Regions from separate parts of the Homo sapiens genome. Here region 2 is linked to region 1. A link means that fine-mapping ties the variant in region 1 to the expression of a gene that starts in the linked region. Tissue or cell type: whole blood. Region 1 holds a variant in brackets; the other region holds the start of a gene. All regions are shown on one strand. Distances are between the middles of the regions.

Region 1 (4,389 bases):
TCACAGGGAACTACGCTTCACACCGGAGGTGAGCCTGCCACACCCTCAGGTCCTGGGCCCCAGGGGTGGGCAGGGAGTCTCTTCCTTATATGAAGATTAGAAGACACTAATGTTGCTGACAGCTAGAGTCCATTCCCATCTCTTTAATCTGAATTGTTGCCATTTCCAGAACCTGATTAAGTTGTCCTCTGCAGTAAGATAAAAAGACAAGGGGTCAGGGCTAGGGGCTCGTGGTAATGCTTCTCCTTCCCGACCCTGCTGCCTCGTGTGAAGGCTGTGTCTGTGGATTCTGCTTCTTACAACTGACCCATCGGTTGCCCTCACTCCCTCCCACCCCACCCTGGGGTCACAGAGCTTGAGGGGAGAGGGTGAGATGAACGGGTGTGAGAAGCTGCGGTTCCAGCACTAAGGTGGCCTTTTTTCCTCTTTCGAAATCAGCTTGTCCGGCTGCCCTCGTGCAAAGAAAAGTGGAGTCAAGGTGGCACCCACCAAGGACGACAAGGAGGACCCCGAGCTGATGAAGTACGTTGGGCCATGCTGGCTCTTTCATTGCATTGCGGAATTGAGATTTTCGTGTGTTTTATAATGTAAAAAAACTCCTACTAGATTCCCTTTTCATTAATACAACGGGTCACCTAACTGACCAACGCCAACTTTCGTTTCTTTCATTTTTATGGAAGCTCTCATACGCTACACGTTGATACCTGTGAAGATAGGAGCCCTGGATGTCGCGTGGAGGGCATGGGTGCCAGATTTTCTGGGCTTTTCAGGTCTGGAGTATTTGACGGGGCTGGGAGAGGCAGAGCACCCTTCTACCTATGTCTTAGGGCCACCTGGGAGTGGGCCCCAGGGCCTTGCAACCTGCAGAATTTGTCTGGCAGGAAAGGTGAGATGCAGGAGTCAAGGAGGAGAAGGTGGTTAGAACAATGTTGAAGCTCCAAATCCCATGTGTCCATCCACCCACACACCTGTGCAGAGAGCTGGTAGATTGAGAGAGCCAGGAGGATCTAAACTGGGAGCCAGACACTGTTGGGTGAAGGAAAGAGGACATCTTGGGCCTTAAGTGACCCAAGTCCTTGAGGAGAAAAGATTCTCCTCTATTGCTCTTCTCACTGGGGCAGGGTGGGGGCTCGTGTGTCTTTGTGGGGCTTATAGGTGAACCCTGACTCTGTGTGTTATCCTACTTGGTGGGGGTTTGTGTCCTTACAAGCTTATTCTCCCAATAGGGAACGGGTCCCCTGCACTGCCCACTTTTAGGTGGGGGGAATGCTTTGCTACAGACTCAGACCAGGTGACCCACTGGCCATTTTGCCCAGGACCGAGGTACTTTCAGAGCTGACATCTGGCAAAATGGGCAGTGGGTTCCCCAGCAGGTGAGCAGAGTGGAAATGATGGCTCTGGACACCTTGTTGCCCAGGGTTAGGGGCCGGCTCGGTCGGGACGGGGCCCTACTATGCCCGCAGGAAGCAGGTTGCCCTCGTTGTGTTACCTGCTGGGCCAAGAGCAGCCAGACCTCACGCCCGGGGAGGGGCAACTTGGCCTGAGATTGGGTTGCTCCTCCTGGTAGTTTGCTCCAGCTGTGCCCAAACACCCGGCCACACTGGAGGAGCCTAATTGACCAACATCACATCCTTCAGACGGGGATGGGCCCACCAGCTGTTTGGTGTAATAGGCTGTGGCTTGTTTATTTATTTAATTTTTA[C/T]AATAAAACTGTAATGAATGCTAAATTAACAATGCAAAATTTTGGTTGTTAGTACTATGAAGGTCGCACACTAAATGCTGAGGTGGATAAAAAGCATTTTGCCCCTGAGAATCCAGGAATTTGCCTATGATCATATAAGTGCAACACCTTTATGGATTTGGCAAGGATCCTGCTGGCAGGGATATTATAAGTGAATCGTGCTGCATTTGCAAATGATTAAAATCAAGATCAGCATTTTTCAAATTAACCAGGAAAAATGGTTTTCCTTTCTAATGTGCTGTCAACTGAGCTTTAAAAAAAAACAAGAGTTCTGCAGCCGAGTGGAGACTGTGACTTTCAGAAACACTTCAGCATTTGCAGGATAGAGGAAGGTCCTAGAGGCTCCATGGCAGAGGGAACCTGACTACTGAACCCTCCGTTTTACAGGGTTCCTTCCCAGCCATAAACTTTAACTGCACTTGTAATTGCCTAGCATATTTAAACAGATGCATATCAAAGCAGAAACTGGAATGGATGTGTCAGGTCATGCTGAGGGATGGGATTTCGTCAGCATGCATGAGCTGTGATTTGGGGAGCCTGGTGGAACAGGAGTCCTTTTTATGATATCTCCTGCCTGCGCTATTTAAAATTAAGTCACATCAGGCGCTTGGTGGTAAATCCCTTTGCCACAGCTTTATAACTGGTCATAAAAGTCTTGCGGAGGTTCCAGCATGGGAGTCAAGAGGTGAATGCTCCCCTTGCCCTGCCCACTGTCCCTGGAGGGGACTTCTGGTCCTGGCCATGTTTCTCATGTCACTGGCACACACGGCTTCTGCCCCCCAACACGTGATAGGAAACACTAGCTCACCCAAGAAGCACAGAGGCCTCACCAGCTCAGTGCCTGCCCCCACCGCCCCAGCACCTCTCAACATGATGTCCCTGACAGCTTGAAAGTCTCCACACCAGGTTTTGTGAGAAAGAGAACATACCTGAAATCTGAAATCCTCTCCATGTATGCGATTCAAGGGAACAAAAACAGTTTCCCTTGATGAAGGGGAGTAGTGTTTTGCAAGAAAGGGAGTGAAAATAACTCAGATTTGGGCCGGGCACTGTGGCTCATGCCTGTAATCCCAGCACTTTAGGAGGCTGAGGCGGGTGGATCACCTGAGGTCAGGAGTTCGAGACCAGCCCGGCCAACATGGTGAAACCTCATCTCTACTAAAAATACAAAAATCAGCCGGGCGTGGTGGCGGGCGCCTGTAATCCCAGCTACTCGGGAGGCTGAGGCAGGAGAATCGCTTGAAGCCGGGAGGCGGAGGTTGCAGTGAGCCAAGATTGTGCCACTGCACTCCGGCCTGGGCAACAAGAGCGAGACTCCATCTCAAAAATACTACTACTACTACTAATAATAATTCAGATTCGACTGTGTAGAGTAGCTGAAGAGCCAGCCACCCCCCATTTGGCCACAGAGCCTCTTCCCAGCCAGTCTGTGCCTGGTGCAGGTGTCCCCCAGGGTCCCATGGCTGGGCCATCCCCATCAGAGGGGGGCTGGACATTGAATGTGAACTTCCCAAAGCTCCCATAGGGGCCCCTGGCAGTGTCTCTGCTCTGGACGGGGATGAGGTGACCTCGGACTGGCTCAGGGAATGTCCTAAAAGTTTCTGAGGGCCAGGTGGGTGGGATGAGTAACAAAGGGAAAAGAACCAAGAGAGGGGCCTGTGGAGAGAGAGAAAGCAGGGTCCTGGCCGAGTTGGCTGGGAAGGGTCTGAAACGGCAGCTTCAGAGACGAGGCCAGAGTGTGGGGGCAAGGAGCCGGACGCTGCCCTCCCTGTCCAGGCCTTGTTGACCTTCCACTGGGCAGCGCAGCCCTGAGCCGCCTCTCACCCCTACGGCGGGAGCCTCTGCCCCCGCCCCCGCCCCCTGCTACCGTCCTCCCGAGCGCTTCCTGCGCTGACAGTGACTTCCCTGTATGCCCATGAATCTCCTCGTAAATGGAGCCATGGTGACCTCTCGGGGTCTTGTGTTGCCAGGTAATCAGCACACAGGGAGTGTGTGACAAACGGTAATTTGGATGAGTTTCATTTATGAAGAGATAAGAATGAGCCTTGCAGATTGAAGATCTTGTCCTGGGTTTGGCGTGGGTTCCTGGATGACGTGGTCCCTCAGCTCCCCAAGTCCTGGTCCAGGTCCTTCCCTGAGGCAGTGGGGACAGACACTCAGAGAGGTCATGGGCCTGGGCCCTCTGCGCTGTCCTGTTTGTCTCTGACCCACACTGAGCCCAAGGCATTTGCCAATCTGAATTTATGTTATTTTCATAAGGGCCTCTATCCCTCTCCTGGAACACCCAGAACGAAGGAAAGGAAAACACCATTTAAGGCCAGCCTCAGGCACGAGTGATTATGGGTAGCGAGTCTCCCCCACATGAGGTCTGCGTTCTTCCTTCTAGAACATAGATCTCAGTGGTGGCAAAGCTGCAACATCTATGGGCATTGCCCCCTGATTGCACTGGCCTCAGTCTGGGAGGCTGTGGGGTGACAGGCCTCTGCTGTCCCTGAGCTCCCCTGCTTAGGGGACCTTGTCATTCTTTTGTGATCCATAGGCCCCCAGGCCTATGCTTGATGCAAGCTCCCAGGGAGTGGCCTCTAGGTGGTCTCAGCTGACAACATGGCTCCACATTGCTGAGTGACACACAAGTGACTCCAGCAGCA
Region 2 (4,389 bases), 26 kb after region 1:
GGGTCTCACTAACGCAGGCCTCCATTACAGCTGTCCCAGCACGGACTGAGTAGCCAGGTTAAACATTAAAAGCTGATTGAGCCAATGCCCTTATACAAAGGTTGGAATGTAACAAAGAGCCCACCAAGAGTTTTGCCTAGGCTCTTCCTGGGCCTTGAAGCATGACAAGATAACGAAGGAACTCTTAACAGGACCCTTTTTAGGATTAAACAAGTTGTATTAGGGATCTGAAGAAACTCCCCAGGCCTCCACAAACAAGTTTATGGGGGTCTAAAGGAATTCCCCATATCATTATGATTTAGCAGGAGACAAGATAAGGGTAATCACCCCAGCACCTAGACCCATTTAGATTAAGTAAACTTACTGAGGCTCCAGAAGAGGGTCTTCAGGACTCAACCTTAGTCATAGATTAAAAGAAGTTAATCACTTATGTCTGTAGATGAATGCACACTTACATGTAGACATACAGCTTAGAAGGTATACGAGCTTTGGAAAACTTTGTAATTTTGAGTTGGTATGGTGATAATTTCCAGGCCTTCTCCTTGTAACCGGTTACAGAAATAAAACCTCTCTTACTCTCCAGCTCATTTGCATCTTGTTATTGGGCCAGGAGAAGTAGTAGCCCGACCCTCAGTTGGGTCCAGGAACAAAGGGAGTGTCTGAAGACAGCAGTGATGTGATCACCTGTTTTAGGAGGACCACTCGCCAGAGCCCAGGGGAATGGTGGGAGGGGTGGGGAGAGGTGAGGGGAGCTGGGACAGGGCAAGGAGGGATGTATGGAGGACGTGTCCCCTGGCAGTAGGAAGAGAGTCAAGGATGACTCCAGGGCTTCTGTAATTTGAAACAGTCACAAATAACCACAAGCTCTCAGGTGGAAGGACACTGAGAGCCCCATGAAGGTCATGAGGTGGTGGGCCACCTCAGGTCCGTGGATCCAGGACCATGGATCAACAAGAGAAGTGAGGTCTCCCTGGGACCACATAACGTGGTGAAGGCACCGGCCTTTGGTTTTCAAACTCTGCTCCTAAGTGGAGCTCCAGGGTCTGGGGAGGAATGCCGAGTTAGGAGGGAGGCGGGAACCGGAGACCCAGGCCCACTCGTCCGCCCCAGCGACGCTGGCACTTGCACATATGAGGCGGCTTGCATGGCTGTGCTTGAAGAAAGGGTTCTGCAGCTACAGCCTATCTGCAAAGCCCCACGCGAAGTTTGGGCAATGGGCTGTGTGAACCCAGAAAATGGGAGACAGGTCTCAGTTAATTTACAAAGTTTATTTTGCCAAGGGTGAGGACGCGCCCGTGACACAGCCTCAGGAAGTCCTGACATGTGCCCAAGGTGGTCGGGGCACAGCTTGGTTTTATACATTTAGGGAGACAGGATACATCCATCGATACATGTAAGAAGCACATCGGTTCGGTCTGGAAAGACGGGACAACTTGAAGCAAAGGCAGGAAGACTCCAAGCGGGGAGGGAGCGTCCAGGCCACAGATAGGTGAGACACCAACGGTTAAATTCTTTTGAGTTTCTCATTTGCCTTTTCAAAGGAGGCAAATCAGATATGTATCTATCTAAGTGAGCAGAGGAGTGACTTTGAATGGAATGGGAAGCAGGCCTGCCCTAAGCAGTTTCCTGCTGGAGTTTTCCTTAGTGATCTTGGGGGCCCAGGATATCTTCCTTTCACAGCTGATTTCACAAAGCCGGCTGGGTAGGAGGGCCCCAGGGCCGGGTGGCCGTCCGCGTGGCAGGGCGGGGGTCCCAGGGCGGCTGTGCTTGGTGCTGGGAGGCCGCCCGAGGGCAGCGCCGGCCCCGAGTCAGCAGCCGCAGGGCACCCTGGAGATGCGGAACGCCCCCAGCCGTGGGTCAGCAAAGGCGTCTCAGGTGACCCTTAGGGAGGGCTTCTGAGGCAGCCCGTGCGGGGTCCGTCCTGGCTGAGCACTGCGCGGACGGCGCGCCCGCGAGACTCGGACCCGGCCTAGGGCTCAGCGAGCTCTCAGCGGGGCGGGCGGACGCAGGCAGCCCAGGGGAGTGGGGCCCGCCCTGCGCCGCCATCACCCCTTTAAGTGCCAGGCCCGCGGCGCATGCGCAGTCAGGCCGTTGTGCGCAGGCGCAGAGGCGGCGGCGGCGGCGGCGGCGGCGGATGTTTACGGCGGCCGAGGTTGGAGCGGCGCTGCTCGGCCGCGGACACACGAGGGACGCGCCCGAGGAGCTGCAGGTGGCAGCCCAGGCGGTCCGAACCCGTCGGCCGGCCGAGCCTGGAGGTAGAGCCGCCGCCGCCGCCGCCGCCCCTCGGTCCGGCCTGCGGCGAGCGGGTGGTGTGTCCCCTCGGCCCCTTCCCTCCTCCTTCCCCACCCCCGGCACCCCTGCGCCCGGAGCTCTCCTCTGGGGGCGTCGCTCCTCCCCACCTCGGGCACCCTCACCTCCCCCCAGCGGCCTCCAGGGCGTCCCGCGTTTCTCTCTCCGAGCGCTCGCGGTTTCCCGTCGGTCTCTCCCGGTGCCCGTTGCTCACTCACACTCTTGGGTCTGGTTAGTCCAGACCTGCAGCTTGTCTTTGACTTCCCAAGTGGGAAACGTTTGCAGTTCCAAGGCAAGCCAAGAGCTAAGGTTTAGAACAAAGTCTGCCTTGGACCCTTTCAGAAGATGACAGGATTTTTTAAAAAAATAATTGCGCCCCCCCGCCCCGTGCCTTGGAGATAGTAAGAATTGGAGCAGAGCACTGGGACTTCAATTCACGCATGGAAAGAGATCTTTGTTAGTTGGAGGAAGGAGAACTTGCCTGAGCTTCGGGCCTTTGTTTTGTTTTTGTGAGAGGGACGTGTCTCCTAAATGAATGTTTGCTCCAGCGTTGCACCTCAAATAAGTCACCTAAATATCCACGCCCTCTTTATCCACCCCCTCTTTACTCGTGTGACTAGAATAGTTTTCATTTTTCTTCTCAAGGGAATGGCTAAACAGCTCCTATCTGGGCGTTTGATAGACTGTCATTCAAGAATGAGTGAAGTTGAGGTGCCTATAAGCAACTCAGAAATTGTTGTGGCCACGCTTGGGGGAAATAGAGCCCTACACTCAGGTGATGAGAGGAGACCTCAGAGGTGACCGATCCAGGGCCTTGCTCCCTGCGCCACCCCAGCTCGTACCTCCAGTGGAACTTGGCTGGGCTTATCAAGAGCTCCTTTCATTCATTGCAACTTCATTTGTTAGAAAGCTTCTCTGTGTATTTAGTAGGCATTGTCTCCAACATGTACCACTGGTCTGGCTTTTGTTAGGCCCATTAATAGTGTACATGTGACAGCCTTTCAAGTATAGGTGCTCCCCGGCTTACGGTGGGGTCGCATCCCAGTAAACACATCGTTAAACCTGAAGTCGAACCATCCGAAGTCGGAGACCATCTGTATTTGAAAAAAGTCCCTTTGCATTGCTTGTAAGAGTTCTGGTTTTCAAGGTGAGAAATCTGTTTGTGTGTTTGTTTGATCATTCTGCCCAAAGGAGATGTGGCTTTGGGTCCTTTTCCCCACTCATCTTCCACAATGAATTACTTTGTCCATATTACCCTAAAGAAGTGACATCCAAGTTGGAATGTGATCTTCCGTATGTCGCCTCCCAAAACCCCACTACCATAGCTTCATGCTTGTGTTGACACAGCCACAATCACAACTCAGGTGTCAGTTCTGAGACCTTCCCATGCCTGTCGCCACTCAGCAAGTGTTCTTCATGTGCCCTGGCAGTTCGCATTGTAAGGAGCAGCCAGGTTGTTATGGACTGTTGCTAGTTACCACAGAGTAGTGAATTATATTAAGGATTAATTACAGCAGACAATGTGCACAGTATCATCGAGTGCAGCGTTCTAAAAATGATTCTACACTTTTACTTTGAAAAATTGGATTTGACCAGATTGTAGAATCTGGGTGAAAATGATAGGATTTGGTTTGGCGAAGAGCTTTGTTGTCGGTGTTTTTGGTGACATCATGACTGATCATATCGATGGTTTTCAGTGCGAGGGAGTGTTAGATTACCAGACAAAGATGGTAATAAATATCAGACCCCACAGCTATTCACATGGATCCTACCAGTGGCAATAGGTATAGATAGGGTTACCCCATCGTCAAAAGGTTACCGGTGTGTTGTGTGGTAAAGAACGTTGCTGTCTTGAGTATTTTTAAAAGCTGCACTGGTGTGGTATTAAAAACACAGGCCTTTTGCCATACAGTCCTGGGTTTGAATGCAGCCCCCTCCTCACAAACTGGCTATGTGATCATGAACAAATTAACCGGCCAGCTCCAATTTGCTTCTTAATGTTGTGAAGTGTAAATGAGGCCATGACTGGCAGGTGGTACCTGGAAAAAGGTGCTTGTTTTTACTAAAAAGCTGTCTGAACTTTCAAATTAAGGCAGAGTT

The links.
Region 2: PCMTD2 starts here. The variant in region 1 is fine-mapped to the expression of PCMTD2 in whole blood (TOPMed, PIP 0.99).

What each region holds. Positions count from the first base shown.
Region 1 is chr20:64,227,450-64,231,838 of GRCh38, forward strand. MYT1 (myelin transcription factor 1) reads left to right here. Exons shown (of 23, transcript NM_004535.3): 17 at 1-28; 18 at 439-522. Among named protein-coding and RNA genes, the nearest start is that of PCMTD2, 26 kb to the right of the region's middle. The variant C/T (reference allele first, on the strand shown) is at 1,703.
Region 2 is chr20:64,253,616-64,258,004 of GRCh38, forward strand. PCMTD2 (protein-L-isoaspartate (D-aspartate) O-methyltransferase domain containing 2) reads left to right here and starts at 2,133. Exons shown (of 6, transcript NM_018257.3): 1 at 2,133-2,255.